3 separate regions of the Homo sapiens genome follow, and regions 1 and 3 are each linked to region 2. Evidence: fine-mapped expression QTL. A gene starts in region 2. Each other region holds a variant in brackets. All regions are shown on one strand. Distances are from middle to middle.

Region 1 (10,748 bases), 310 kb after region 2:
AGCAAAAGAGCAGTTAGATTGTTTTGCTAGTCTAGATTTAATAGTCTCTGTATTAGGTGTCATTGAATGGTAAAAGTGAATGGAAATGCTATTCCAAAAGGAGGCCATCCAGATTAAAGAGTAAAGATAGTGCATTGGAAGAAGTCGTGGCTAAAAGGAATGAAAGAAGAAATGATTAATGCTGACTGTGACATTTTTGTTCAGAAGCAACAAGGTGCTGTGCAATACATACTAATTTGGGAGACAGAAAACCAAAATTCTATTTGTCTTTGCCATCAAGTAAGCAAGTTATTTTACTTATATGATCTTGATTGTTCATGTGTAAAATGTGGATATCATGTTATGTTTTATTCAAGGTCTCAGATATTCTGTGAGACTCTGAAAAAAGGTCTAAAAGTCTATAAGCAGCTATTGTGTAGCAGGTGCAAGTTAAAAGATGAGTAGGTGTAAATAAGAGGGGACTTAAACGTTTGTGGAACAATGTAATTAAATGATAAAAACTATTAACTCTGTTTTTCAACATAACTCCATCAAGTTCAAGACCCTTTTGTAAGCAATGATAGCAGTCATTTAGACCATCCCTGAAGAACTGAGGGCCCTGGCAGTTTAACCGTGTCAGTGCTGTCTTTTTTACATTAACTGAAGAAAAATGGGCCCCCTCTAAAATTTAAGATTAGGAAATGAAGTCAGAAGGAGCCAAATCAGGACTGAAAGGTGGATGCCTAATGATTTCCCATTGAAACTTTGCAAAGGTGCCCTTGTTTGATGAGAGGAATGAGCAGGAGTATTGTGGTTAAGGACTCTCTGGTGAAGCTTTCCCAGGCATTTTTCTGCTAAAGCTTTCCCAGGCATTTTTCTGCTAAAGCTTTAGCTTTCCTTCTCAAAACACTCTCATAATAAGCAGATGTTACTGTTCTTTATCCCTTCCAAACAACTGTTGCCATGACCTTTGCTCTTGACTGGTCCTCTTTTGCTTTGAGTGGATCCCTTCCACTTCTTGGTAGCTAGTGCTTTGATTGTGATTTGTCTTCTGGATCATACTGGTAAAGCCATGTGCAGTTCTTTGAAGAAATGCTTCAGAATCTTGATCCCACTTGTTTAAACTTTCCATTGAAAGCTCTATTTTTGTCTGCAGATGATGTGGGCACACATTGAGTGGAAATTATTCAACTTTAATTTTTCATTCAGAATCATGTAAGCTGAACCAAGTGAGATGTCTTGTCTGTGGTATTGGCTATTTCTGTTGTTAATCGTCAGTCCTCTTCAGTTAGGGCACTAACAAGATTAATTTTTTCCTTGTCAATTGATGGGGATGATCTGCTGCTGCTTCTGTGAGGGCTTCATCTTCAGAATCACCTCATCTTTTCTTAAAATGAGTTATCTATTTGAAATTTCTTGTTTCCTTGGGGTATTGTCCCCATAAACTTTTCGTAAAGCATCAGTGATTTCATTATTCTTCCACCCAAGTTTCACCATAAATTTGGTATTTGTTCTTGCTTCGATTTTAGCAGAATTCATGTTGATCTGATAGGGGCTTTTCGCAAACTGATGTCTTACCTTTGTGGTGCCTTAAACAAGATTCTGTTGAAACATGTTATCACAAGTTAGCACAAGTTTATTTTGGTGCAGAATTTTTTTCTTGAAATTCTTGCATAGTTTTTCCATGATACACATTTTTTATGAACTTTTTGAAGACTCCTTGTAGGAGTAACAGAAGTACTTAGGGGTTTCATTTTTTAAAAACAAACCCTTTCATATCAATACAAGATATGTGGCCATATAAGAAACAAGCTTGGAGGTTTCCTGATCAAATGAAGTAGCTATTGATGCAGTGTTCATGACTGCCCAAGTAGAAAACCTAATGAGTAGTCAGAAATATGGTGGTACTGAAGAAAAAGAGGAGTGATATTGCTGTTACTTTTAGTATAAGAATTTAGCAGATTTGCTTCACATCTGTTAAAAGTTTCCAGCCTGAAGAGCCTTTGACACCAAGGATTAAGCAGTCAAGGAGTTCATTCTAATTTTAATATCAGTTTATTAATCTTACCTGTTTATTCATTTTCAGAAAGATACTCAAAGCCTGAGCTCAAAAATCCTTTTGATGTGTCTTGGGGTCTTTGTATAATGGATCCTGGTGGATCATGTTTTCTTATACATAATGTAAATGATACTGTCCTACTCAGGGTAAGCTTTACATTAAACTTAATTTCCTCTCCTTTTCAGATTGTTAAAGGAAATGGGCTGGCAGGAAGACAGTGAAAATGATGAAACATGTGCTCCCTTAACTGAGGATGAAATGAGAGAATTCCAAGTTATTAGTGAACAGGTAAGAAAACCTGAATCATACAACTTCACTTTTAAACTGCCCTTATTTAGAACAATATAATTATATGTAAGCATGGAGTGGGGGAGATTTAGGAATTTATCACGATAGGTCAGAATTGCTTTTAAAAAAAAAAAGAGGGAGGACAGGCTTTTGCTATGGTGTCCAGCTGGCCTCTAGAACTCCTGGGTGCCAGGTGATCCTCCAACCTTAGCCTCTGGAGTAACTGGGACTACAGGCAGGAACCACTGCACCTGGTTGAATTGACTTTATAGAAGTCTGCAATAGTGACTTATTTAAACTATTGGGTGTGCAATAGTTAGGAATTAGTGTAAGTGATGTCTATGGATTAGTCATTTTCCAGACCTTTTTTGTTTTGTTTTTTGTTTTTGTTTTTGGCTTTTCTGGGGGAGGAGCAAGAGTGATAAGAAGTAGAGAGTGTTAGTAGCTTCCTAAGTAACTTCATCTTTTATCCTTTTCTTGCACAAGAGTATTTCATATTCTAAAACATCTTGCTTAATGTCTCCCTAGTTACCTTTCTGAAAGAGTATTAGGGAATTTTTGTTAGAGCATCAGGAAGTTGAGATGCTTTTTTTCAAATCGATTATTTGTTTATTTAAAGAGTTGGGGTCTCACTCTGTCATCTAGGCTGGAGTGCAGTGGCTGGTCATAGCTCACTGCATCCCCAAATTTCTGGGCTCAAGCAATACTCTTGCCTCAGCTTCCTGAGCAGCTGGGGCTACTGGCTTGTGCCACTACACTGGGCTTATTTTCTGTCTTTAAATTGTTTCTAATTTGGGCCAACTATCTTTTTTCTTCTTTGATGATGTTTTGACTCAATTCTTATTTATTACCAACCTTTTAGTTATGATTTCTCATTTTCAGAAATAGAGAACTGTATTTTTTCTAGTATCTTCATCTCCGGTTAAACGAGACAATTTTGTAACTTTATATACCTCATTCTACTTTACAAACTATGAACAAAGCAGATTGGGGGGTGTATTAATTTAGGTCAGAATAATAAAAATAACAGATACAGCTTAATGGTTTCTGATTATATTCTGGTAAGTCCCTGAAGGTATTTATTACAGTTGTCACTTGAGGCAATAAAAATGTGGGAAAGTTTAGTACCTTAATCAGTGTGACAATTATTACTCACATCTACTTTGTCTGGATCCAGAATTTTTTCAGAAATATCATTACTTGTGTAGTTTTTGGGTTAGGATACAATTTTATTATATTCATGCTTATATTATTACAGTAGGTTTGTAACTCTTGAGGGATAATTTATTTATTTTGCTGTTAACATTTTAGTTACAGAAGAATGGTCTGAGAAAAAATGGTATTTTGAAAAATGGCTTGATCTGTGACTTCAAGTTTGGACCGTGGAAGAACAGCACTTTCAAACCCACAACTGAGAATGATGACACAGAGACAAGTAGCAGTGATACATCAGATGACGACGATGTGTGAAGGATTTCCTAACAGCTTTAGAAATCTTAGTGTGATACATCTCTCATACAGTTTGGGGTGAATTGTAAAAATGAAGAACTATAATTTATGTAGTGAAATACCCCATTAGAAGAGGATTTTTTGGGGGACTTCAATATGAAGAAAACCAAGAATGTTTTGTTGGGCTGTGTTGAACATTATTTCTTTGTAAATGAATGTTGTAGGAATGAGGACTTGGGTTGGTCCAACATTGACTTTCTTCATCACTGCAACATTTCTCTGACTAGCAATGTGACGATGTAACAAATGAGATTTTCTCATTTAATAATAAAAAATTGTGTAATGTTTTGCAAAGCTTCTGTCTTAAAATGTCCAGGTCTTAAGAAAAAAGGCAGCTTACACTGTTTTGCTTGCAGAGTCATATCTTTTTCGTACAATGGAAATCCTCAAGTCCACTTTGTGCGGTCTCCCTCTCCTTCCCCCAAAAAACAACAACAACAAAACAAAAACCAAAAAGGAAAATGTAGCATGTTGGCTAAAACTGGAGCAAAGTGCACTAAAACAATTTCCTGAACTCACCTGTTGTACTATTCACCTTTTAAACCATAAATTGCTCTTTAGCCATTTGTAGTGCAGTAAATGTTACAGGAAAAGACTTGGCACATTTTCTTCCAAATTTTAAGAGGTGATTTTCAAAAGCTTTATTGGGGTATGTTGTCAGACCAGGGTTTTCAGAGTTGATGGAAAAGAGTCTTGTGAGAAAACTTATTTTGATAAATTATTACACACGCAGAAAAACTGATCACACTGACTGGATCTGTCCACGACATGGAAAATAAACTGGATTTTCAGAATATTGTTGTTTTCTGTAGTGTTCAAGGTATTGTTTCTAAACATAAACATACTCTAAACATGCTTTATTCACTTGTTAAAGTCATACTTTTAAAAGTAATACCTTACTAAAGATGGTGATTACTTTTCCGAGGTCAGAAAAGGAAAGCTAAGCGTTTTCATTATCAAATACACAAGCTTATTAAATGAATGACTGTTAACTACTTTATTTTCATTTGCACATTAATTTTGGAATTGTTTCTGTTTTGCTGCTGACGGAAATACTATTTTGGCTCTGTGTATATTTGTATTTTGATTTTTCTGGTTTGTTTACCCCCATTTGCTTTTAGCTCCCCCTTATGTTTAAATATATTCTAACTTATGTAAAGAGCATAATCTTAGAGCAAAAATACTTGAGGTTTTATGTCAGATCTAATCTTAAGTGTTTGTTGTTTTTTAAAAAGTGTTTTCTCAGATGGCTGCAGTGTTTTTGCTATTTCTGCATAAATACCCTACCTGGACTCCCCAGTTTTCACCAGAAACTGTTATTTTTTTTTGTTGTTGTTCCCACTGAGACTGATGGTGATGGGGAAATTAAAAACAACACACTAGCACACTCCCACAAAACTTGAGGAAGAGTTAGAATGG[T/C]AATAAAATATTAAATAGACCTTATACTTAAAATAAGGTTTCACTATATAATTTGTCACAATTCAATCTAATCAGCTAAAGTTAAATGTAGTTAGAATTAGCCACAGGAGAATGTAAAGCATGCTTTGACGAAGCTATCGGTAACACATATTGAATGTCTTTGAGACTCTTAGATTGTACTATTTGCTTAATAGATTAATGAAATTTATCAGATACAACCTGTATTTCCAAAAACAAGCTAGAAGGAACCTGAGGAATGTGGTTTACATTTGAGATCCACCTTACTGTGTTTTCTACTTTCAGAAAAGATTCTGTAGTTTTGGTTTTTGGCATCTTTCTTATACTCAGTTTTTTCTGCCTTAATTCCCATTTACCAGCAGTTAACTCATGTTTATTGTGCTTTCATGCATTGTGATATGGAATGTGTTTAGTAATTTACTCCTTATAAATATGGTAAAGTACAGTGGTATGGTTATTCTATGCATTAAGTTAATGACATTAATAAGCTTGGTTATGAGGGGTTGGAGCCATACATGTAATTTAAGAGAACAGTTAAAAGTGTAACATAGTTTTAGCTTGGTGTCTAAATAATGGGCAGCTGATAAAACAGCTTGGACCATATTGTTTTAAAGAGAGCCTACAAGCACAGAAACTAGTTATAGATCTAATGTGGAATTGCTGAACTCAGAACTAGGCCATGGAAGTCTGAAAAGCAAATATGGCTGTTTCAAACTCATTTTTTTGGCAGCTTTTTTATTTTTAACACTTTATTGAGGTATAAATTGACTTGAACACACAGGTAAAACATACAGTTTACAGTGTTTTGACCTACAACTAAGTGAACATAATCTATTATTCCCCCGAATTTCTTGGTTCCTTTTAAGTCCCTGTCACTAATTCTCCACCCCCCTCTCATTTTATTTTGGTATAAAATGTAATTAATGAGCAAAATTCTTAAGGTAATGACTTAAAATAGCATTTCAAAAACTATTTGCTTGATTTTAGTATAAGGATTAGAATATTTCTGCAGATAATTTCTATTGAAATTGTTAATCTAAAATCAGCTTGACTTAATCAGATTTATATTAACAGAATTCAGTATGTTAAAGGATCTGGTTCCCCCAAAATACTTTGTCCTTTTTTGCTAGTGTTTATGTATACTGTTAGAATGTGGTTATATAAACCTTTTAAATTTAGGAATCTGTTAAATAACTTGTTTTAACACCCCATCCGTCATCATCCCTAATCTGATACTGGAGTCTAAATACATGCTCCATAATCATGCAAACTAAGTTGAATCTAGATGATGAGGGTAGACTGGGTGCGGTAGCTCATACCTGTAATCCCAGGACTTTGGGAGGCCAAGGTCAGCAGATCACCTGAGGTCAGGAGTTAGAGACCAGCCTGGGCCAACGTGGTGAAACCCTGTCTCTACTTAAAAAAAAAAAAATACAAAAATTAGCCGGGCGTGGGGGCATACACCTGTAATTCCAGCTACTCATAGGATATTGAGGCAGGAGAATCGCTTGAACCCAGGAGTCGGAGGTTGCAGTGAGTTGAGATCGTGCCATTGTGCTCCAGCCTGGGCAACAGAGTGAGACTACGTCTCAAAATAAAAAAAAAATGATAACTAGGGTAGAAAGGATACACACTTGTGAAATATTTCTATAAAGTGAGATTTTTATTTTGGCTTACACAATAAGGGATGTGTTACTAGGGCTTTTAAATGATTATCACTAAGAGTTGGATATTTTAACTTTTAGATAGTTAAGTTTCCTGAGGTTATAAAAGTTATTTGGCTGTTAGGGGAACGACAGGACATATCAAGCAATAGAAAAATCCGTGAAAGCCTCCAGATGCCGCAGAGATGCTTCAGATTCTGGTTTTTGTTTTGCTACTTAATATTTCCTTTCTTTAGGCAGGGCTGAATGCTTGCACTTAAAACGATGGGACTCAGAGGACAGCTGTGATTGTTTTAATATTTAACTATGGGGCTGGGCATGGTGGCTCACGCCTGTAATCCCAGCACTTTGGGAGGCTGAGGCGGGAGGATCACCTGAGGTCAGGAGTTCAAGACCACCCTGGCCAACATGGTGAAACCCCATCTGACCCAGTCTGTACTAAAAATACAAAAATTAGCTGGGTGTGGTGGTGCATGCCTCTGATCCCAGCTACTTGGGAGGCTGAGACAGGAGAATTGCTTGAACCTGGGAGGCGGAGGCCATAAGCCATGATTGTACCACTGCACTCCAGCCTGGGTGACAGCGAGACTCTTGATATATATAACTGTATAACTATATATATATAACTATATAACTACATATATAACTATATAAAAACTATAAAACTATGTAAAACTATATATAAGACTATATATATATAAAACTATATATATATAGTTATGGGACACGTGGACCTGAAACATTCGTAGTTTAGGACTTGAGAATGTGTTGTAATTAAGAGGTTTTGTAATTGTGAATTTTTGTTCAGTTGTACAGTTAACTTTAAGTTCATTCTGCCTACCCATATGGATTCGTTTTGTAGAACTACTCTGGCATAGTGATTGAAGGTACAATGTATTATATCATTAGGTCTGGTTGAAGGACACTGCTGAAGCATGTTCCATGCAGCAGTGTCCTAACTTGCAATATGTAAGAGCATGTGTAGTGGTGGGGCCCAAACTTATCTACACCATTGGTATCATTGGGGAGCTTCCCCAATGTGTCCACCATCCCCCACCAACACCCCAGATTGTGGTTTAATTAGACTGGGGCGTGGCCTGGGCTTTAGAATATTTAAAAATCCTGCCCCCAAAACCCATTCTTTTTTTTTATTTTTTGAGACAGAGCCTTACTCTGTCACCCAGGTTGGAGTGTAAGTGGCGTGATCTTGGCTCAGTGCAACCTCTGTCTCCTGGGTTTGAGTGATTCTCATGTCTCAGCCTCCCAAGTAGCTGGGGTTACAGGTGCGCACCACCATGCCCGGCTAAATTTCATATTTTTAGAGATGGAATTTCGCCACGTTGGACAGGTTGGTCTCGAACTCCTGACCTCAAGTGATCCTCCTGCCTATGCCTCCCATAGTGCTGGGATTTACAGGCATGAGACACCGCGTCCAGCAACCAGTTATAATGTATTAACATACAGTATGGTGGAAGTAGTCACACCTGGGTTTGAAACTACATTTTTTTTCCCCCTTTTTATTTGTGCCTTTTTTTATTTTTTATTTTTTGAAGACAGAGTTTTGCTCTGTCACCCAGGCTAGAGTGCAGTGGCATGATGTCTCCTCAATGCAACTTCTGCTTTGTAGGTTCAAGCAATTCTCATGCTTCAGCCTTTCAAGTAGTTGGGATTATAGGAGTGACCACCATGCCCAGCTAAGTTTTGTACTTTTAGTAGAGACAGGGTTTTGCCATGTTGGCCAGGTTGGTCTCAAACTTGGCCTCACGTGATCCGCCCACCTTGGCCTCCCAAAGTGCTGGGATTACAGGCGTGAGCTGCTGCGCACAGCTTTAGCTGTGACTTTAATCCAGATAGGCAACTTAATATCTATTCGATAGTGTTATTGTGAGGATGAAAACAATAATGAAAAGCACCTGGTGTAAATCCTGGTTCACAGTAGGTGTTCCATAAATTTAGCTAATTTGCTACTAGTGACAATTCAACTGGACCTTTCCCAGTAGCAGGCAGTACCTATTTTTAAAAAATTAGCTGTTGTTAAATAGGTACTATTCTAAGTGGTTGTAAATAGTGTGAAACATCTGTTTGAGTTCTCACAGTAAATTACAACTGTTTTACGTCTGCTTTGTTTGGCATTACGCTCAGTTATGACCTAAGCTTGATTTTATTCAGCTGTTAAAATGAGTTTTATCAGAGATCTGAAATGTAATCATTGAACTTTAATGGTAAATTATAGTCCTGTGAACTAATTGCAAGAATGGGTTTCCATGCTTTCAAATCTTTCAAAATAGAATTGCCTTTGCTAGTCTCATCACTTTATGCTTTTTGTGGAAATAAGGTAGTTAAGCACATTATTAGGCAAGAGTTTAACTTGATACTCATACTCCATTTCTCTCAAGGTTTTCCCTCATTTTCTGGAATGCTAAAGGTGAACAAAGATAATGGGCTGGAGAATTGTGACAACAGTATATAACTTTTTCCCCTCACTTTTTAATTTTATTAAAGAGACAGGGTCTTGCTACATTGCCCAGGCTGGTCTCAAACGGTCCTGGGCTCAAGCAATTCTCCTGTCTCAGCATCCAAAAATGCTGGGATTACAGGCATGAGCCACCGTGTCTGGCAAGAGTATATAACTCTTTTGCCTTACTTCAGTTACTTAACCTTTTTAAAATTGGGCACTTGATATGCTAAAACTAGTTGTCTGGTAGACATTAATATCTTGAGAAAATGAGATTGTATGTTTGTGTCAGCTTTTGTGTATTATTATGTATGTAATTTTTACTTAGATGCCAGAATGTACCTTTCCTCACTAGGGAATATAATTTTGTTGTAGCCTTAATGCCATTTGAATTTTTTTTTTTTTTTGAGACAGTTTCACTCTGTTGCTCAGGATGGAGCACAGTGGCATGAACGTGGCTCACTGCAATCTCCGCCTCCCGGGTTCAGGTGATTCTTACTCCTCAGCCTCCCGAGTAGCTGGGATTACAGGCATGTGCCACCACACCTGGCTAATTTTTGTATTTTTAATAGAAATGGGGGTATTGCCATGTTGGCCAGGCTGGTCTCGAACTCCTGGCCTCAAGTGATCTGTCCACCTCAGCCTCCCAAAATGCTAAGATTACAGACGTGAGCTACTCCGCCCGACCCTAATGTGATTTTCTTTAATGGCTGGAGAGAAGCAAAAACTAGCAGAAGGGAAAACAATGAAATGTCAATCTGTATACTGTAATAAGCAGGTACAGTTGCGTTACGAGAAGTTGACTTGGTGAGGTGAAGAGATATTTTCTCCCTCAAATTTGGACTTAATGTCCTGACATTGTTTAGCTTTTGAAAAGTTATTTTGGTTTATTGACTATTAGAGTGAGTCATTTGACAGAATGAGAAGAACCTGGCTACTGAGAAAGTGAGTCTAGGCAATTCTGTATCCCCACATAGAGACATAGAGACTCATGCCATCTATTAAGATGTCTGAAATTTCTTTTTTGAAGATTATTTTCTAAACCGAATGTTGGCAAACTTTTTCTGTAAAGGGCTAGATGGTAAATATTTTGGACCATGTGATTTTTGTTCCAATTACTCAATTAATAGTACCAATGCAGCCGCAGACAGTAAACAGGTAGGTGTGTCTTTTCCAATAAAACAAGCTGGGTAGGGACAGTAGTTTGCTGATCCTCATTATAAACATTAAAAACTAGGCCTTTGGAAACTCAAGGAAAGTGAAAGTTGGGTTGTCATATTTGATCTTTATACCATTACCTGTGTGATTTTTCAGTCTTGCAAAATGCTTCCCCCTGTCCTGCCCAGTTCTGGGGCAA
Region 2 (10,748 bases):
TGGCTGATAAGAAATTTTCAAATATGGTTAAGTAAGCATAAATCCTACACGTTTTCAAGGTGACCCCTATAGGGACCTCTCTATATACAGTCCTGGTATAAATGCATGAAAATACAGTTCATTTGAATTTATATTGACTTGGGGCTTAAAAAATTACAAACTACACTCACTCTTGCCAACCTTTTCAAAGATGACTTTTAAAGGAGCAGGGGATGGGATATTACCAATTTATATTTGAAAATACAGTAAATCTTTTTCAATTTTCTTAAAATATTCCACTAGATTATGAGTTATTTGAAGGAAAAGGCTTCTCTCTGTATCTACTACAGTACTTATACAAATTCAAGTTTGACCCTTAGCAGAATAGTAGTTACAATGGAAAGAGGGCTAGACTAGGATTCAGAAATAATCTTAGGGCTTATAGTTTTCCGTATCTCAATTTTCTCATCTGTAAAATGCCTACGTGTACCTACTTCACTGTGTTGATATAAGCTTAAAAATTAAGTTAACAGATACAAAATAATTTTGAAAAATTAAATGAAAGCATACTTATTAGGCTATCCCCCAAAATAAGAGTGAAAAAAAAAAGGATTATGATCCTATTTTTATTTCAGGTAGATTATTTTTAAAATTACAACAGAATTTCAAAATCTTTGTTAAGTTTGTATATTAAAGTAAATCTTATACCTTTTCTAAGTCTTCAATTTCTGAACTGAAGTTTTTACCCTCATCCATCATTTCCTCTTCTTCAAGAGTTCTTTCATCATCATAGTCATGGACCAACATCTCAGCAGTGGGGTCAAAATCATGATCCTCAGAAGACAAAGACCCAACTGGAATAAAACAAACTGAATCACTTTACACATTTACAAGGCTATTAACAAAAGAAAATAAAAATTTGTGTTCTTCTGCCAGTCCCTTTTCATGTTTATATGAGGGTTTTACTAAATGAATTTACTATATAATTTATAGGTTATAAATTAAGACCCCATGATTCTGAAAATATGTCTAAATCAGCAAAATAACAAGGCAAAGTTATTCACAAACACTTTTATAAGGGGTTTAGTCCACAAGAAAACAACTTATGATAACAACAAAGTGATTTAAGCAGCATGGTTTTAAAGAAACATTCTAATAGAAAAAGTCAAACTTGCTTATCATTTAATACATCTGTCTAAAAGCAATAGCAAAATATCAGAAAGATTAAATTTCCATGAATGGAAGATTTCACAAGAATCGACTATACACTAAGATGCACACTTCAGGATAATATAAATTTTACTCAAATTCTAACCCTCAAATAAAGACAGAAAACACAACAAAAATCTGCTTTATAAAACAAATATAAGTTTCTGTGAAGCAGCTATACAGCCATTCAGCTTTTAAAAGCATTGTATCACTTTACATTTCTCTAACAGTACTTCAAGTTCCCTAGCATTAATCAGACAAGCATTAAACTGTAAGACTTTGCTTTACTTTGGATTACTAACAAAGTTCTTAGGATTATGTGTAGGGAATACAGAAAATCACATCTGAAGGTTTTGGAAGATATATCCATTGCAAGTTGTTTTGGATAATTCATACTTGTTTATAAAACTATAATATCTTTTAATAGCAAATATGAAGTCAATAGGAAACTCCAAAAACCAAGAGAAGAAATGACTAAAATCCATAATCCCAAAGAAATGAAATCAAATTTATAAAAAAACAGGATTTTCTCCACTTGTTTTACTCTAGTATCCAATTCAATTAGACCCGTAACCCTCAGAGCAAGGAAGGAAAGTATCAGAAACTGAGGTTGGGGGAAGGAAGAAGTGGATGGAAGCATACTCAACATAAAAAGTTTAATCTGTTCTTAGTCAAGCTACTGAATATTTTAAAATTTCAAACATTTCAGGACAGTGTGAGATCATTACCAAAACACTGAACTGGGCCAAAGATTTTTCACTATGGAAAAACCACACACATAATTCATTATTTTTGATTCTGGGTTCAGAGAACTCTAATTAGTTCTAAAAATACAATTTCTACAGGACTTTATTTTTTGGCAGGTTTACATTATGTTATCTTCCTTAATGTTGAAAAATATCTGCTCATTTAAAAACTTGTTGATTTACATGTGGTTTAATTTAAAAAGAAATATAGGCCGGGGTGGTGGCTCATGCCTGTAATCCCAGCACTTTGGGAGGCCGAAGTGGGGGGATCACCTGAGGTCAGGAGTTCCAGACCAGCCTGGTCAACATAGCGAAACCCTGTCTCTACTAACAATACAAAAAAATTAGCCGGGCATGGTGGTGGGCACCTGTAATACCACCAGCTACGTGGGAGGCTGAGGCAGGAGAATCGCTTGAACCTGGGAGGTCGAGGCTGTAGTGAGCCAAGATCACACCACTGCACTCCAGCCTGAGCAATGGAGCAAGACTCCATCTCAAAAAACAAAAAAACAACAAAAAAGAAATAAGAATATTTATTAATTAGCTCACATCCACCATTACAAATTTTCTTTTTTTGAGGAATTCTTGGCAAGTTCCATGGTATGCCAAAGAGGCAGAAATGAAATAGATGCTGACTCTTTCACCTCTTTGGTAGCAGAGCTCCTCTGGGCTCTTCTGTTACTCTTCTATCACTTGGCACAACAGGCCTCCCCTTTAACATGGAAGGTATTCAGTAAGGGTCAAAAATCGAAGGACCTGAGGGTCTACTCCCAGCTTTGTCCTTGGCTTTTTGGGACCTAAAGGAAGTCATTTAAACTTTCTAGGTCTAGCTCCTGTCTTCCATTTGCAAAATACATGGGGATGACTGAAAGGACCTCAAAAGTCCCTTCCAACTCTAAAATTCTCTTTTTAAAAAACTGGCTAATTAATCCCAGCACTTTGGGAGGCCGAGGCAGGCGGATCACTTGAGGTCAGGAGTTCAAGATCAGCCTAGCCAGCATGGTGAAACCCCATCTCTACTAAAAATACAAAAAAATCAGCCAGGTGTGGTGGCGCATCCCTGTAGTACCAGCCACCTGGGAGGCTGAGGCAGGAGAACAGCTTGAACCTCAAAGGCGGAGGTTACAGTGAGATTGCCCCATTGCACTCCAGCCTGCATAACGTCTCAAACAAACAAACAAAAAACAAAAAGAGGCTAATTGATTAAAAACAGGTTACACTGTCTTTTGGCTTATTTAGAGTGCAACTTCTTAAAAGAAGTCAGTGATACCAAATGGAAAAATTCCATTAATCCAGCTGTTTGACATCATGTATATATTTTCCTAAAATCAGTTATAACAAAAAAGTTCATCTCAAAATTAACAAAAATTTTTAGAATTTTAAAGATATAGACAGCTATTTTTAAAATAGCTGCAAATTTCTTCTACTTGGTGTTATAATACCTTAAATGACAGTCAAGTGAGGCTCTGAAGGTGGAGCAGATACAAAAAGTAATAGTGTAAGGAAACTGACTATTCACTCTATGGAAACAAGTTGTAATGGAAGATTTAGGAGCTCATCTGTGCTCCACCACTAACGAAAGTTATTTAAAAGTCTCCTCAACTGTAAAATAATGGAGTTGGACTAGTTCAGAGGTGCTTTTCCTGTAGACTAGGAGAGGGAAGACAGCAAAGAGGTAAGCTAGAAAGGAAATGAGAAACTGAAACAAAGATACCTTACATGATTAGCACATGAGGAAAGGTCCTTATGGACCTGCTACAGGGATTCTACAAACCCCAGATTGTGTGTAATTATGCATATGTGCAGAGTTCTGGGACACATCCCTTGCTTTCATTAGATCCTGACAGGGGTTTCTGACCTCAGGAAAGTTAAGAAACACTGTACTAGATGACCTAAGATCGTCTCAGCTCAGAAGTCAAAATCACCCTTTTTCTGTGCCAAACTTGGAAGTTCTGTCTTTTTTATTAAGGTAGCTTTACCTCTCAACTTCCAATTTTAACACAACTCATAGACATTTAATTATGAAAAAGAAACAACGTAAGAGGAGATGAGGGGTTACAGTTAGTGAAGTAGTCCCAGAGTTCTGACAAATTACTCAATCTCTAGAAGAAACCGAAGTTAAAATCTAAATTGCTAAAGTTGGTGTCAAGTTAATTTGGGATTAACTGTTTCAGGCTCGGAGGAAAAATAAGATATGTAATAATTAAAGCCATATTCCTTAAAAGAACGCTTGTCTTAGCAACTTTGTAACAGTTACTTTTTCAACATGCAAGAGAAAACAAAGAACAGTATAACTGTTTCTTCCCCAAACTTTACTAAATGCACACTGAAACTCTTAAAAATCAATGAAGAAAAACCTGCAGGATACATTTCTATTGGGAATCCTTTAGCAACAGACCTTTGAGCCCACATTACCCACTGGGAACCACCGAAGACGTAAGAAAATAGGACAAACCTGGGCTCGAACTTCCAAAAGAAGCCTAGGAGAGAGAGAAGAAAACGTGAGGTTAGATCGCACAGCCAGGGAAAGAGGCAGCGCCGGCAACAGGGCGCAGAGGAGGCGGAGTCGAGCGCTCCTCCGCAGCTGCCAAAAGTGCAAGACGTAGCTTCACTCGAATCGCTCCCGGCCCCTTTCGGGCCCCCTCTTGGCTGCCTCGCCTTCCTCCCCGAGTCCCAAGTGTACAAACTCACAGACCCGGGACGAAGCCCGGAGTCTGAGAGGCAACTCCAAGTCGCTTCTTGGAGCTCAGCAAGTTTCCAAGCAGAGAAGCAAAACCCAGAGCAGTCGGCTGGCACCATCAGTCCCCCATCCCTGGCATCTCCGGAGTCCTCCAAATCCCACCCGGCTCTCCGAAGCCCCAAACAACTCGAAACGTAACACCCTTTTCTGGAACGAACTCGCGTTCTGAGCACCTAGTTCGCCCCTGGGGCCCGGGAGCCCCAACTCCGAAGCCGATCTCTTCCCCTGCAGCGTAGGCCAGCTCGAATCGGACACTCGCCCCCAAACCAAAGCGCGAGCCCCCCATCCTCTCTCTCGAGTCCAGAGATGCAGCTCCTCTCAGTTCCAGGGATGCTGGCTCCTTCCAGAGTGTTCAGTCCCTCCCTGGACCGTCAGCGCGCCCCCCGCCCCAGCGAGCTCCAGCCCAGGGGCTCCTGCCACACCGCCCCCTCCCCCCAGCTCACCAGTCCCGGGGGACATGGCCGGGGCAGCTTCGCTCGCCCAGCCTTCCTTCCTCCAGCCCAGAGAAAACTGGAGCTATCAAGCCGCTCTCCTGGAGAGGGCGTCGAGGGTCTCGGTCTGCCCTTTAACCCCAGGGGCTCCCGCACCTCCCGGGCTGCGGGGTGGGGAGTCCCGCTCTTCTGAGAAGCCCGGTGGCCCCGCATCCCGCTCTTCTCCGCGCCCCCAGCAAAGTGAAGCGTGCGGCTCCTTCGCGCCGCAGCCCGGGCCCGGTGGGCCGGGGGCACAGCGCACGACTCCCGCAGGGCAGTGGCGCAGCCCGCTCCCCTCTTTGCGATCCGGCCGCGGAGGGGGGGCTCCGCCGGTTTCCACCCACCCGGGCCCGGGGAAGAGGCGCGGAGGCGCCGGCGGCCCGCGTCAGCGACCGGGGACACGGCACTGCCTCGTCCCTGGGGCAGGGCTCACTGCAGCCGGCCGCCACCTCCGTCCGGCTCGGTCGCCCGGCCCGACCGGGGCCGGAGCCGCCGCGGCCTAGTCCCGGAGGGAGACCGCTCCCGCGCCCGCTCCCGCCCCCCGGCCAGCCCCGCCACGGCCAGTCGCCGCCCCGCGACCCCCGCGTCGCCACGCCGCCCCTCATGGGGCAGCGGAAAGAGCCCCGGATCCCCCAGGCTGGCTCGGGGGTCGCGGGGAGCCGCCGGGCGCCCGCTCCAGCCCGGCTGCTCCTGCCCGGTTTCCCTGCTCACCTCCGCCATATTGGTACCTTTAGGGCGAACGAGCAGCGCCGAGCCCAGTCCCCGGATGGGGCGCCTGAGCCAATCGCAGCCGCCGCCGCCACCGCCGCGGTCCGCCCGGCACCCGCCCGGCGGCGGAGGCGGCACGGCCCCTTATAGGGCAGGGCGGCCCGCGACGCCCCCGGCCCGCTCGCAAGCCGACGCCGCCCGGCGCCCCTCGCCGCCCCCGCGCCGGCCCCAGCCGGCCAGACCCGCACCCGCGCGCACCGTCCTTCTCCTCCTGGCTGGTGTAAAGTTCCTGCCGAATTGGAGGCAAGTGGGGGACGGACGGACGCGCGGGCGCGGGACAGACCCACGTCCAGCCAGTGGAGGCCCAAGAGCCGGCGGGCGCGTCTGGGAACCGACCCACAGACACCGCGGCGCGGGAGGGCGTGCGGGAGGCGGGCAGGAGACTTGGACTGGCAGGCGATGTGCAGGGGAACTCGACAGACTCAACTTCCCTAAGAGGAGGAGGCGATCTATGAAATAGACAGATGTGGGAGGAAGCCCTGGGAAATGGGAGAAGAGGCTGGTGGATGGCAGAGTCAGTCCAGAATGAGAGGACTACAGTCAGGCACTTTGCCGTTTCCACGAAGGGACCTGCAGGAATGGGAGATGGAGACCGGTGTACACTGCTCACGGAGTGGACAATGGAAGTAGACATTTGCCAAACAGGTTATTGACAGCACAGAAGAAAAGACAAAAGATCGACAGGGCAGAGAAATGATGCTGAATATACTTGTACAGTTCAAGAAGATGCCCAAAAAATATAAACTGTGCTGTTATCCAAAAAAAAAAAAAAAAAAATTAGACCAGTTCTAGGAATTGTTCATCACCAACGTGTCTTAGGGGATGACCCAGAGATACTTGATACATCTGTTGAAGGACAGGAACAGCATATCAAAGGCCCTGAACTGAGTCTCAAAAATTCTACCCCTCACTTCCCTCACTTCTCCAAAAAGGCCAAACGTTTGGGTAGGATCATAAAAGGAAACTAGTCCCCTGTGCAAGTGGATGGGTGAAAGACGGAGCATAAGGCTTAACAGGAATACCTGCTCGTACATGTTCCTTATGACCATTTGCTCTTCATTGGAGGAGATTACTCTCCGGAAGGTCCACATCCACACTGAAAGACTTTGAGCCAAGTACACAAAAATATACACTAACGACTGATTGGAGAGTTAGGTCCTGCAAGAAGTTAAAGTAAGGTATGGAGTTGCCCTAGCAAATTTGGAGGACACATTGTCCTAAAGTGGGAGGCCAATTCTATCTGTGGAAAAGAAAGTCGGCTGTAAGGTACATGAATAAGTGAGATGCAAATACCATCAGGAATTATAGCAGGACCCTACAGGAATTTGGAGAGAGTGATCTCAGACACCAGAGCTCTTCTCCCAGCTTTTTTCTAAAACATACGTAATATTAAATGATAAAGACAAGTTTTTAGAAGCTAAAACTTTCCATACGTCATACTTTTAATCCAAACATGAAAGGTCTTGATTTTAACCTGGGGTCCCTCCAATTCCCTTATTGCTGGAGTGCATACTGAGGATGAGGCTGGAGACTGGAGGTAGGGAGAGGGTTATTTTCAAATTTTTTGCCAAGGCATCTCAAAATCAAGCTTATGCCACGGGTAAAAGTTATTTACTTATGGAAATTTTAGGGAAAAATCACTCCAACTATTTCTAAACATCATAAAGACATGGAAAATTACACTTTCCCTGCTGTGAAAGATATCTTTCGACCTTTTGTCCAGTCAAATAACTCAAAAACAGCTAAACTTTGAAACCAGACCTTGGCACACATTGTATGTACTGTCCTCAATGAGGCGTTCAGAGTTTTCAAAGTAAAAAAAAATGGCTTGAAATTAAGTACAAGTGAATAACTTTAGAAATGACGCAGTGAGCACGCGCTGTGGACAGAACCATGAAACAGTGCCCTGAGCAGCTGGACCGCAGTCTGAGCCACGTGAAGAAAGTGTCTCCAACAACCTGCCTCATACATTACACTGGGAAAAACATTTTCTTCCCAGCAAACTTGGCTAATCCAAACTATAAATGTAGTCTTAGATTATATGTTTTGCCATAACTGAAATATACACAGATTTATTCACTTTCATGAATCTAGTAATGTTTCTGTAGACTTTCTTTATATTCAATTGTAAAGATTTTGTATAGGCATTTGTAATTTTGATTGTTATATGCTCCCTATTATAGAACGTAGTGTAGGAAGTCTGAGTCCATGGTATTAAATAAGGATTCAGACAAAGATAAATGAAGCTAAATTTATTAGCAGTTGAAGGTAGCAGAGCTACTTTCCCCCACCTGATCACTAGAGAAAGTTTATCACTCAGTCTTACATAACACATTCCTTTATGATAAAGTGTGTAAAGTCTATATGTAGATGGAGCTCTCATTCTTTCTGATTGACAAGACTTTCATGAGTCAGTACAGATTAAAAATCCTTGTGACCCAAGGAGTTTAAATTAAAATACTATTACTTTTTACTTTTATTATCCTGTAACTATGCAATACAGGGCATTATATAGAAAGTGCTAGATGCTGGGCACTGTGGGACCACCATAAAAATGTCCTTGTCCCCCAAAAGCTTACAATCTAAGTAATTTCCATAGGTGGTAAATGGATATGTGAGCAAGGAAAACTAAAAACCATAGTAACCTCCTAAGGAGAACCAAAATGTCATAGATCCTCCAACCATCTTTAGAAAGGAAATAAATCAATACAGCTTTATTTATAAACATGTAATTTTAGAGGCTTCCAGTAAATTCATACAATAAAATAAAAAAACATATATAAAAAAATGAGGACCAACGAAACTAACTAGACTAGGAGGTTAACACCAAAGAAAAAGTAAGGACAAGGATCTGCAGGTTATGAGGTATTAACACAATACAATAGTTAAGCCATAAATGTAGAGCTTTCTGGCAGCCAAAGCAAAAAAGGTGAATGTAATCAGTTGCTTGCTTCTCATTGGAGAAGCATACAAATGTAGGAGAAATATACAAATTCTTTTGGTAACTGTCTATGAAAGTTGAGAGCACAATATGAATGACCTACTGAAAGCAGTTAATGGGGCCACAGTAATGCAACATAGATATTTAGGCTTCTGCAGATTCCATCTAACCCATGGGAAACTAATAAACCAAAGTTAATGTCTCAATCTCAAATGCCCATAGTAGTCAGGCAGGCATAATGAATGAGTGAAGCAGGCTAGTGTAGACAAACGCAGGAGTAATAGCAAATTTGGAGACGTGTCCTACTTAAAGATGGAAACCACTATGCACTACTTGGGTCAGTTTCAGCTTACTGGCCCAATGTTTCCAGTTTCAATTTTCCAAGAACAGCTGGAAAACTGAATTTTTATGTTATATCTCCTGGTCGTAAAATTTTGTCAACTAATTTTTTAAAAATTTAAACACAGTGTAGATCAAATAAATCATGTTAAGTAAATCATATTTAGCCTGGGAGCTTCCAGTTTGCGAACCTGATCTAGAACATCATCTTAGCGTTACTTCTCAGCATAGCTTGTAAGACTGTAATGCCAACAGTTAGACCCAGCATCAGGCCAAACTACTTGCATTTTTCTAAATTTATCTACTTCTCCTGCGTGATATTCAATTAAATATTTTTTGTTGGAATGAATGGCCACTCTCTGAGAAAGCTAACTGATCATAGTAAGTTTTGCCTAAACAAAAGATTCTTAACAAAAGAAAGATGATCTGCATGGTAACTTTAAAAAAGAGAGAGTTCTCACAGTTCAAAAAAGGTTTCAGTTCGTTTCTAAGAAGGGAACTTGGTCCATATACATGAACATATATCCAGCCTGTGAGTCAGGGCCATTCTTAAAATGAGATGGATGCATCAGGCTGACATAGCTGTGCAAGCATACCCAATTGGAACTTCCAAGTCAATGACTTTAAATTGCAGGAACATCCTCAAAAGAATTTGTAATAACTCTATCCCTTCTTATGTATTCCAATTGACTTCTAATTTTGTCATTATAAATTTAAATGGCTGCAAAGGATGTACTTACCTTTCGTAATGATGGTCATTTAAAAATAAAGCCATTATATAACACTTAAAATGTATGCAATGGAATCTAAATACCATAACAATTTGATATTTCATTATTCTTTTAAAAAGACATAAACATGTTTCTTGAATGGTATGAAATTTTACATGATTCCTTTTTCTCCTTGAACTCATATTCCCATTCTACTTTCTCCAAAGAAGTGTAATATGCTTTATGCTTAGAAGTCTTTTGTTGATACCCTACAATCTTTATCTGCAACAAAAATATCCTTGTAAATTGATAGTAAAGAGAAATAATTTTCCTCCAGATTGAATTATCAGTACAATTACTACTAATTTACATTTGATCTAAGCAATATACATGTATTACAAGTTTTGAGTAAAGCTTTTTGAACAAAAATTGCATTGGAAATCAATCTATTGATAAGATGAATAGGATCTTTAAAAATTAATTCATGTACCCATGGATGAATATTACTTAATGCTAGAATGGGAGTTTAACATCAATTTTATTCTTAGTCTTTATTTATACAGAAGTAAGGTTTGAGAAACCATATTCATACACAAATAGATAGAAATGGAAGGGTTTTGTTACTAAACCATCACTCAATTTGTTGATCTCCTTAGTAATATCTCCTTAGTAATACATCATGTTATGATCTTCTATCAAACATTATTTTTAATGATCTATACGCTGATGTTTTAAATGTGTTCCTTCAACTTTGTTGAAAGCTAAGAGTTAAAAGCTACCTGACTTGAAAGAGGATTTTTTACAAAGCTATTATAGCTCATCACTATAATTCACTTCAATTTTGAT
Region 3 (10,748 bases), 32 kb before region 2:
GCTGTGAGATGAGATATATCAATGGCTAATTCTACTCCTTTGTCATATGACTGAGTGCCAAGGGCAGTTGAGTATAACATATAATAAGCTAGTCAAGTCCTTAAGCAACTCTCACTTTTGGGGGATGATATTAGAGAGAATTAGGGGAAATCTTGATATACATTATTTAGAATTGTTTAATTTACTATTTTTCTTCTGATTTTGCAGTGAATATAGGCAATTGATAACTCCCCTTTGATCATTATTATTTTAGCATTTTAAAAATAGAAATTATTATGTCAGTGCTTCAATATAGCCTTATAGATTAATGGCTAGACTAGTATCTGCTTTCTGTTGCTAAGTTTGTGAGTCCCTATCTATATCTTCTTTAGGAGTTGACTTTCCCATAGGTAAAAGTTTGATTGTTTGAATACATTTAACATGGGCTTTGGCGTTAGTGAGAAACGAAGTCCAAGCCTGACTCTTTTATTAGTATTTAACCTTTAACATTTCTGAGCCTCTATTTCCTGATATATAAAAAGTAAACAATAAAACATACATATATGTTTATTATGTATGTTGGTAGATATTATCTAAACATATGTTATTATATATGTTGTTTATGCAAAAAGTAATAAAACATGTTTTATATATGTCTTTTTGAATATTTTATTTTATATATTTATGATTTACCATATATATCTGCAAATATATATACGTAAATAAACTCTGACAGTACCTGGAACATAGTAGTAATTATTTTGATCATGTTTTGATAATTTAGAAAAACAGACATTGAGTGTCATAATTCAATTCTGTTTTCCATGACCTTGTATAATGGCTCTTTTTCTAAAAATGATGTGCTTGTTCCTAGACAGAGCAGCTAATGTCTGTTATCAGGAATTTGATGTGCCTGCAGTTTTCCCTATAGAACTGAAGCAGTATCTTCCAAACATTGCCTACAGCTATGACAAACAAAGGTTCGTTTGCTAAAAGAGCATTTCATATCTTCTGCTTATGCTGTACTTAAAAAAATATAGAAGAAAAAGCTATGTAGAATTTGGGGTAAAATTTTTTTTTTAGTGAAAAATTATAACTCAGATTTTTATGTTCACACCTTAACGTGTTAATGTAGGCTTATTTGAAATTTAAAATTTTCCTTTAAACTAGCTCATTCTGTTTATTTTTACCCATTTTTATTCTATGGCAATACTTCATAAGTATCCACCTTAAAGTTTTTTCAAATAATTCTGTTGTTTTTCCTACCTACAAAATCTTCAAATATATCTTTACTTTAATCATTTATAATATCATGTTCTCTACCTTATAAGAAAGCATCCAATTGAAGAAAGAGGCCAAATTACACTATGATTCCTTTGCCAATTTCACTATTAGGTTCTTAATAATGAAACTAAATAAAAAAGGACTGTATTCAGAAGACACATATTTTAACATAGCATTTATTTCCTGTTCATTCAGTGGAAAGTCTACTGAGAATATTCAAATAACAATTTTAAAATATAGGTAATTCTGGAGAGCTAAGAGTTCTTTCTTAACAGTGCTGTAGGAAGATACAATCTTTGTATTATTTTGTTGAGTTGCTAGCAAACTTTATTTTATATAGGACCTATTAAATTGTCCTTCTAAGATGAATGACATTTAAAACATGAACTATTATTTATACTTAAAACTTGAGGCCAGACACGGTACCTCAAGCCTGTAATCTCAGCACTTTGGGAGGCCAAGGTGGGTGGATTGCTTGAGCACAGGAATTCGAAACCAGCCCAGACAACATGACAAAACCCCTTCTCTACAAAAAATACAAAAATTAGCTGGGTGTGGTGGTGTGTACCTGTAGTCCCAGCTACTTGGGAAGCTGAGGTGGGAGGATCCTTGACTTGGGAGGTGTATGTTGCATTGAGCTGAGATGGCACCACTGCACTGCAGCCTGGGTGACAGAGCCAGATCCTGTCCCAAAACAGGAAAAAAACAAAAACCAAAAACTTGATAACTTTTGCTTCTCTGCATGTGTATGTTTGTGTGTTTAACTATTAGCTTTTCTTAGCCATATACTCCGGGGCATGATGTTATTAGAACTTTGAATGTATATATGTAACAATATCTAGGCTGGGTGCGGTGGCTCATGCCTGTAATCCCAGCACTTTGGGAGGCCGAGGCGGGCGGATCACAAGGTCAGGAGTTTGAGAACAGCCTGACCAACATGGTGAAACCTCATCTCTACTAAAAATACAAAAATTAGTCAGGCGTGGTGGCACGCACCTGTAATCCCAGCTACTCAGGAGGCTGAGGCAGGAGAATCGCTTGAACCCGGGAGGCAGAGGTTGCAGTGAGCCAAGGTCACACCACTGCACACCAGCCTGGGTGACAGAGTGAGATTCCATCTCAAAAAAAACAAACAATATTTTATGATGTCCAGAAAAAAGCATTTTTTTAAAACTCCAACTAATTTTAAGTAATGTTTTCATTTTTCAGGATATAAGATACAAATGAATGCAAGAAAAACTATAATGTCATTTTAAAATCCTTTTTGTGATACTAGTTTTGGGGGCCTAAACTTAGAAACAATGTTTTCAGAAGAAGTAGTCAGTTGTATAAACATTGATTTGTGATTTTTTAAATGATATAGATATACTCTTTAGAATACCTGCATCAGGAATAAGAACTATTTCCTCATGGAAATCAAATGCATAAACTAAAATGGAAGGAACCTGAGTAAAGTTACCTCTATAAAAGCCATCTTGGTTATATTAAAAATATGAGCTTATATTTGTTAATGCTCTACCTTTTGTATATCTTTTTGTTTTCAGCCCACTTCGATGTGTTGTTCTTGTCGCACTTAGGGACATCAATCAAGGAGAAGAGCTTTTTTCAAACTACTACACAATTGTCAGCTAACTCTGTGAATCAGAAATTATTAGGTTTTCTACTCAGCTATTAATTCTAAGTGTTTTTTGTTAATCACTTCTCTGAGTTCTACCTGTAAAACAAATATTTTGAGACTTAATTGGAATAGGAATTTCTTATGTTTTTGTTGATATTATATTTATGTTCCAATTTCATGATAAAAGCTACTTGCTTCATTACAATTTCAAATTTGTAATGCAATTCCAAGTTTAATTGGTTTTCACCTAAATACACAATAGCTTATTAAATTAAAACCTACTCTTTGAACTTATAATTTCAATTTTTCTTTTGTTTATTTTGTAAGCTCTGTGGTGGTTTATAAAATTGTAGCCAGGCATCAGCAGTTCTTGTAGTACTGCTGATGTGTACAAACTTCTGTAAAAACTTTATTTTTACAGAATTGAGTAAAAAATACCTATTGTGTTGCCATGAGTAAATTGGTGTGTCTATGTATAATGTAAAGATTGCTCTAGCTGGCTGAGGGGAAAATGTGAGGTCATTATTACTATTTTCTTTACTCTTTGAACATTTTCACACCAAAGAAAAGGTGGAAAAAAAGTGCAAGATAGTGTTGGTGGGAGGAACACTTATTCCCCGTGTCTCATGTCTTCATGTGGAGGGCTTCCACTGGTTAATGTTCCTAGCCTCTCTCTCCACCCACTGGAGGGAGATTGACTCCCTGATTATGTTTGGAGAATAACTAGGCACCCATGTCCTATATACCCTTCTAGTTCCTTCCCTGTGGACTCTGGCTGCCAGCAGAAAGAATGTGTCCTGGCAGTTCTCTGCCTTGTGCAGAGAATAGCCTGTAGCCAGCCCAGCCAGTGACAGAGTGAGTCCAGAGGTGTAATATATTGGCAGGCCAACCTGGCTGCAGCCCTGAAGCTACCTTCCCGTTTTATTAGCAATAGTTACTTTGACCTCCATCGACCTGACTCCAGCTCTCTCAGTTCCAAACTTGGATAGGAAGGAGGGTGTTCTTTACTGGATCCCTCAAAAATTCATGGAACCTATATGACCAGATTCTGATTACCTTCACTTCCTTACCACCAGCTTTACTCACCTAGTTTATTGCAATTTCAGTAGCCTCTCAATTGCCTTCCTTGTTTCCACTCCTGTCCCCCTTACAGAACATATCACCAAGTGTGATTCTTTTAAATGAAAGTCAGGTATTGACATACGTCTGCTCAAAACCCTCTCCCTATCATGGAGTAAATGCTGAAGTCCTTCACATGCATAACCTGCTCATGACCTCAAGAGCTCCTCTCCTTTCTCCCCTTGCTCACTCCATCCCAACCCACACCTGCCTCCTGGCCACTCCCCAAACCTGCCAGGCACATTCCCAACCAAGGACTTTTGCACTTAGTTCTCTCTGCCTGTAAACATCTTCCCCCAGACAGCCACATAGCTTGTTCTCTCCCTTCCTGTCACCTCAGTGAGGAGCGTTGCCTCATCACCCCACTGAAATTTACAATCCCTCACTGCTCCCAACCCTGACATATTCCTCATTCTCTTTAGCACTTACCACCAGCAAGCTCAAAAAGCGTACCATAGATGGAAATTATGGCCAAAATGACTTCTAGTAACAGATGTACTAGATTATCCTGCTTCCACAGGCTTTTCCGTCTCCTAAAGCCTGAAAATACTCTGAGCTCTCACATGGCACATTGTTGCATTCTTGCTGTATTCGGAATATGTGTGCTTGTCCCTGCTCTGAAGGCACTTCTGTGCATGTGTCCACCACAGAGCCCTATGTGCTAAGGTCCTTTCGTGTCTGACAAGGAAGGGATGTGGTTTTAGTCAAGTAACCAAAGCAGAGGAGTCAAGATTTTTGCTTTCCTTTTATCCCCTTCTTGGCCTTGTACAAACTTTGGATATTATGGGCAAGCTGATCACTGCATCTTAAAAATGGAACTACATAAAGCTCTGGTCAGAGGAAATGAAATATGGGGACAAACTTGTGAAATAATGGCAAGATAGGAGCTTTAGCTTAAAAAGATGTTTAGGAAAGATAGATATGACTACGGTCAAACTATGAATCGTATGGATAAGGAAGACTAGTTGACCATAAATGTAGTCTGTCAAATAATAATAATATTTGACCAAATTTCAGATCTGTCTGTCTTCATAAAAGACAGTTACCTAGAACAGCGTTTGAAACATAATAAATGTTTCCTGAATTAAACTAAAAGTATAATCCTTACTTTGGGACTTCTTTTTTTTTTTTTTTTTGAGATGGAGTCTCAGTCTGTTGTCCAGGCTGGAGTGCAATGGCAGGATCTCAGCTCACTGCAACCACCACCCCCAGGGTTCAAGCAATTTTCCTGCCTCAGCCTCCTGAGTAGCTGGGGTTACAGGCATGCGCCACCTCGCTCGGCTGATTTTTGTATTTTTAGTAGAGACGGGGTTTCACTATGTTGGTCAGGCTGGTCTTGAACTCCTGACCTCATGATCTGCCCGCCTC[G/A]GCCTCTCAAAGTGTTGGGATTACAGGGGGACTTTTATTATAGATGGAAATTATAGAGGATTTAAGGAAAATATTTAATCTACCAACTTCACTATCTATCATATATCTTATTTACTGCATCTAAAACCAATTTAACAGTGGTATAATATCTATCTATTTGCTGTAGCTTAAGATTCATTAAATAAAATATCTGTATTTTTGGCAAATATTCACACAAACCAAGAAAAAAAGATTCCCAGATTTTTATTTCTGGAACTGTACACCAGGTATTAAAGTACAACAAATACAAAATAATGCTCAAAAAAATCAGTGTTTATGTACAAATATTAAAATCAATGCAATAGCAACTTCCTCTTGAACATCTGATACTGAAACTTGTTCTGATTGTCACTAATTTATCTCATACTCACAGGGTACTTATTTCAAACTGGGACAATTGGAATCACTGGTCATCTAAGAGGAATATTAATATCTACCATATTTAACAATAAAACTAATAGTTTCCTCCATTTAGTGAAAAAATTAGGAACTTTTTAAAAAACATAGTAACGTCAATATTTTATAAATTATTTCAATTTCCATTTGTAGACAATGTGCTTTGAAACTCTGGGCAAACAATCTCCTTGGTGGTCAGGTTTATTTGTTAGTTTACATTCAAAGTTGAAATATTCACTAGAGACTTTGGTTAAATTAAATAGTATCACTATGCTCTATTAGATCTGATGTTCTCAAATATTTATGAGCCTCAACATTTTAAAAATTAAAAAGGAAATGATTGCACAATTCTTTGATCTAATTGTACAAATTTTAGTATTTTTTAAACAGTATTCTACATCCTTCAAGTAAATTCAGCAGCTGACCATGACAAGAGGAAAACTAAACATTTAAAAAGCTAGCATGAAAAAGATGAAGTACAACTAACAAATGTATTGCTATAATCACAGCACCAGTTACACTTCTAAATGAATCCACTGTCCTTTTCAAATTCCCTGTACATAAAAGATATATCAGCCAACACTGCAACTGCTCACCATGAATTTTTGGTTTGTTCATAAGAAAATAATGGGGCAAAGGAAAAAAAAACAAAAAGAATTTATCACAGTTTGTTATAAGAATTGTGCTTAACACTTGATAATAAAGGCATTATTGTTTCTTCACATGATTGCAAATCCGGTTGTTTTCTTGCTTCCAAATGCAATTCTTTTAATAAACAGTAACAAATTCTCTGTTAAGATGTTTAAACTGAGAGAAAAAAAAAACCCAGTAAATCCAGCTTTTAAAAGAAAATTCAATAAATAGCTATTTTACATGGATAAAGTCATAGTGGTACAATTTATGAATGTCACATCAAGCATGCACAAAAATGGTATTATACATGGCAGAAGTAGTCAGAAAATATTGAATTAGATCTAAAAAGATATGAAGAATTTACACTTATATACAAAAATCTTGCAAATTATTGCCTCATTTTAACAAGGAATTAAAAGTAAACATTACCAGCTAGTTAGCACTCTCTAAGAGGCTAAAATCAGATTGACATTTAAAAATCTATTAAACTAGCTGGAATTTATTTTTCTCTCATACCATTTTCTGGATTTTGGTCAAAAATCTTTATTTAAATAACTAAAGTGTCCATTCAACTTGCTGATAATCAAAACTTTAGATAAGAAACACTGTTTCCATCTTATATCAAGACCCCAGCAATGCATAGATAAACTGAATATATTACTGCATCAGCTACTGAGAATGGGCATGTTCATTTAAGTGCAACTGGTATTAGCATTCAGTCATCTTTGTGTAAATTATTTATACAGACCAGCCACTGTAAACCCAGAGTGAAAATTAAGGTTATAACAATGGAAGATTATGGCCAGTATCTTACTAAATTATAGAAAGTGTACTGATTTTTAATAAAAGAAATAAGGTTCAAAGTTTAGCACAACAACACAGCAATAAGAAGCTGACAACTTGGATAAAAATACAAGAAAGTAACACAGAGCCCAGGCTACCCATTATTTACTGTGTGCATACAGGAATGCTATACTTCAGATGTATAAATTAGAGACTGATTTTAAGTTATTAATTTAACTACTTTTTGTCCACTGTGCTAAACTAAATTTTATACTAATGTGCTACTGCGTAAACACTTCAAAGCAATCTTCATTAAAATGCTGCAAAGAAAAACAAGAATACACATCATCCAAAACTAAGGATGTCATTGCAGTTCACAGTTTGTATAATAAATACCCTCCCTTTCAATCACTACTAAGATCACTACATCCTATCTACTCATCAGCACAACCTTGAAGCAACTTATACTTACAAATATTAGCAATGCAGCCAAACATTTGTTTTTTGCAAAGCAACTAGTAAAAATCAAGAATTTTAATTAAGACGGTGCAAACAACATAATTCTCTATTTTAACAGTACTACAAAAGCAAAGATTACATCCTAATACTGTATTACATATTGTTTGATTCACCTTATAACTTAAAAATGCATGTTTATAGCACAAAAATGGCCAAAGTTTAGGACAATGGCTTCTCATTCACAATATTTGGAATAAAAATAAAACTGAGTTTGAGATACATCTGAACATCTATCAATTTTTAAAACTTAAAAGTGGTAATGTACCATTCTATTTCAGATAGGAACTCACATTATTCTTGCCAACTGTTCAAGCTTAACAAAAAAGCTTAAATATACTTCAAGGTTCTACTGCATTAGGTATAAAATCTAGAAGTCCCTCTAAATATTAACACTTTGAACTGCAGTGCTACAAACAACTTAAAAGATGTCCCAAAATGTAAACCATTGAGTGGCAACATCCTAGGCTTTGTAGACTGTGCCTCTGCAAGTCGACTGCCTCAGGATAAACTAAATTATCAATGACTGGTATGATTTTTAAGATTACAATCTTGACAATGGTGGACAAAACCCCATCTGAGTACCACATCTTCAAATGCCAAAACTGTAGCCAATAAATGAAGTTACACAGAAATCTCCTGGCAGTAACATGACCAATTCTGTGTAAGGTAGCCCTGGTCTAGAATTTTGAAACAGGATCCAAGCAAGCGTCTTCATTATTTGCACACAGTTCCTTGTGCTGGCTTCCATAAAGATGGACTTGCTGTTTTGTAAACTGAAGTGCTCTAGTTGAATAACATGAGAGAAGTTTCCATTTTTAAAAAATCCTTGCATGTTTGTGCAGTTTAAAGAAACCTACCCCTGCTTTTATTAAGAAAATAAAACCAAAAAAATGCTACATTGAGCAGGGATCGGGATCGGTACCTGTAAACATTGTTATTCCACTGCATCCATTACGGCAAAAGGAATTTACACAAAAACAGGCCACACCATTCAGTTCAGAACATCTGTGCTGGTTTTGAGCTGGTGGCCTCTGTCTACAGGTTTTAAAATTGGGAGTGAGGGCAGTGGGGAACACAAAAGAATAGAAAAAGAAGGGAGTGGGGAAGAGGTATTGGGAGATGAGGAAGAGAGAAGCAGAGCTTAAAGCTGCACCACAGAGTTCAATCTTAGTTCCCAACTCTGCTGATCATAGTTCATTTCCACATTTATGGATTGAAAAATGAAAATACTCTTGATAAATCAAGATATAGTTCTATACATACTGACATCACTGATGTCATAGTGAGAAAGGTTCAAACTTCCAGTGAAAGACTATGCAAACCTGATAGCTCCCCTCAAGTTTACTGGTGCTGCACACGCAGTTCCGGGATCCTCACTCAGGTCACTCAGAGTGTAGGGCCGCGTGCTGATGCAGAGCATGGGCACTGATGAAACCATTGGTCTCGTTGGCAGAGAGACTGCCAAAGTCAGCCACAGAAACAGCCATTTTGGCACTGGTGATGTGATGTGTGTGATTTTCAAAGTCCACACCCAGGTTATTTACAGAAACTTCATTCATAAAGGATTCAGGGACGGCAATGCCCATTTTCAATCTTTTTGCTGGTCTCTCTGACTCTTCACTGCACATGTTCATAGGGTTTAGCTCCGAGTGATAAAATCCAGTCTCAAATAAATTAAAACAATCACTTTCCCCATTGCTGGGCAGGGTGAGTAACTCTTCTGTTACAACAGGCACATGATTAACTTGTCCACGGGGTGTGTTGCCCAGTGGAGGAAAGCTATCATCCAAACAATTCACATCTGTGGGGTCGCAGACGGTTGCTACACTGTTGGTCAAAGCTAAAAAGGAATGGAAAATTGTTTAAGTAAGTGGTCCTATGACATCAAACAGAGGACACAATTTTGCAACAAACTGTACTAAATGCAGAAAGGTCTTCATTTTACCTGTCAAGTCACTGGCAGTGAAGGAGTTGAGAATGTTTAGCTGTTGATCAGGAATAGGCTCAGGCCGGTTAGAAGTTAAGGCTGAAGCATTTACCGTCCCACCCAAAGCTTCTGTTTCATCTACTAAACGATCCATATAGTCCCTGAAAAACACACCCCAGTAATTTTATGACTATATATTACAGTTAAAAGTAAGTCTTTGAAGGCAAGGCCACAGTACTTACGTAACTCCAGGGTGATGGTTATATCTTTTTTTCCCAAATCTTGTCTGTTGAGCAAAGTAATCATAACGTTCAGATTTCTTCCACATATAGTAGAATGCTACACACTCAGCAACTGTCCTAGTTCTCACCTAATGAAAAAGTTGAATTTTTAAAAAACCAACAAACTCAACCATTTTTTTAAGCAACTTTTCTTTTCCACAACACTACAACTTCAATCCATGGGTCTTATTTTCCCATTATATAGTTCTGAACACTTTTAATAAATTATAAAGTTCTGAACACTTTGATTAGTGGAATGCCTTTACATTTAATAATGAGGCCATTTTCGAAAGCCCAAGGTTTTTTTTTTAAAAAAATCAGAATGTATTAGTTTATAAAACAAGTGTGTATCCAGAAATTATCTTACACCTTCACTGAAAATCTTAAACACTAGCATTCTTTACTTTTCTTTACTGAGCTCTGTGATTTTGACTACAGTGAGGGTTCTTAACTTTGGATTAACTAACCCCTGAGGGGTCCATAAATGGATTTCATTGAGATCTATTAATTCACAAAATTATATTTAGGTATATTTTTCTGGAGAGAAGGAATGCAGCCTCATCAGATTTGAGTTCCACTTTCCAAAAGAGATTAAGAACCCTTGGCAAATGGACCAACGGTCTACAGCATCTGGAATTTAAGATGACTTGCTAGCTAAAGGCAGGGCTTTCTCCCTCCAGTATGTTTGGTTTTTAGATCCAACAGATTTTGGAAACAACAACAATAAAATTTGAGCCTCACCACCTTGGCTCCACACCCAAACCAGGGTTCCTCTAACCACATACAGCCACAGATATGAATT

Direction of the effects. Positions count from the first base shown, and alleles are read on the strand shown. Sizes are in standard deviations (SD) of each study's normalised expression. Not every link is listed here.
For the expression in esophagus mucosa of the gene that starts at base 5,885 in region 2, T is the low allele of the variant in region 1 and C is the other (moderate effect, 0.40 SD a copy in GTEx).

The links. PIP is the estimated chance that this variant, and not a neighbour inherited with it, causes the effect.
Region 1: its variant is the best candidate, but not a certain one, in a credible set for the expression of MIER3 in esophagus mucosa (GTEx, PIP 0.52).
Region 3: its variant is the best candidate, but not a certain one, in a credible set for the expression of MIER3 in whole blood (INTERVAL, PIP 0.54).

Annotation. Positions count from the first base shown.
Region 1 is chr5:57,258,957-57,269,704 of GRCh38, forward strand. GPBP1 (GC-rich promoter binding protein 1) reads left to right here. Exons shown (of 12, transcript NM_022913.4): 11 at 2,224-2,326; 12 at 3,638-5,717. The coding sequence ends at 3,796. Among named protein-coding and RNA genes, the nearest start is that of GPBP1, 90 kb to the left of the region's middle. The variant T/C (reference allele first, on the strand shown) is at 5,255.
Region 2 is chr5:56,946,239-56,956,986 of GRCh38, forward strand. It overlaps MIER3 (MIER family member 3), which reads right to left and starts at 5,885. Exons shown (of 13, transcript NM_001297599.2): 1 at 5,856-5,885; 2 at 4,390-4,414; 3 at 688-833. The coding sequence starts at 5,864. RefSeq lists an enhancer at 4,717-4,806 and silencers at 5,377-5,546, 5,607-5,716, 5,747-6,166.
Region 3 is chr5:56,914,008-56,924,755 of GRCh38, forward strand. It overlaps SETD9 (SET domain containing 9), which reads left to right. Exons shown (of 6, transcript NM_153706.4): 5 at 854-959; 6 at 2,808-3,341. The coding sequence ends at 2,895. MIER3 (MIER family member 3) reads right to left here. Exons shown (of 13, transcript NM_001297599.2): 11 at 9,908-10,035; 12 at 9,684-9,826; 13 at 5,596-9,578. The coding sequence ends at 9,121. Among named protein-coding and RNA genes, the nearest start is that of SETD9, 9.8 kb to the left of the region's middle. The variant G/A (reference allele first, on the strand shown) is at 5,369.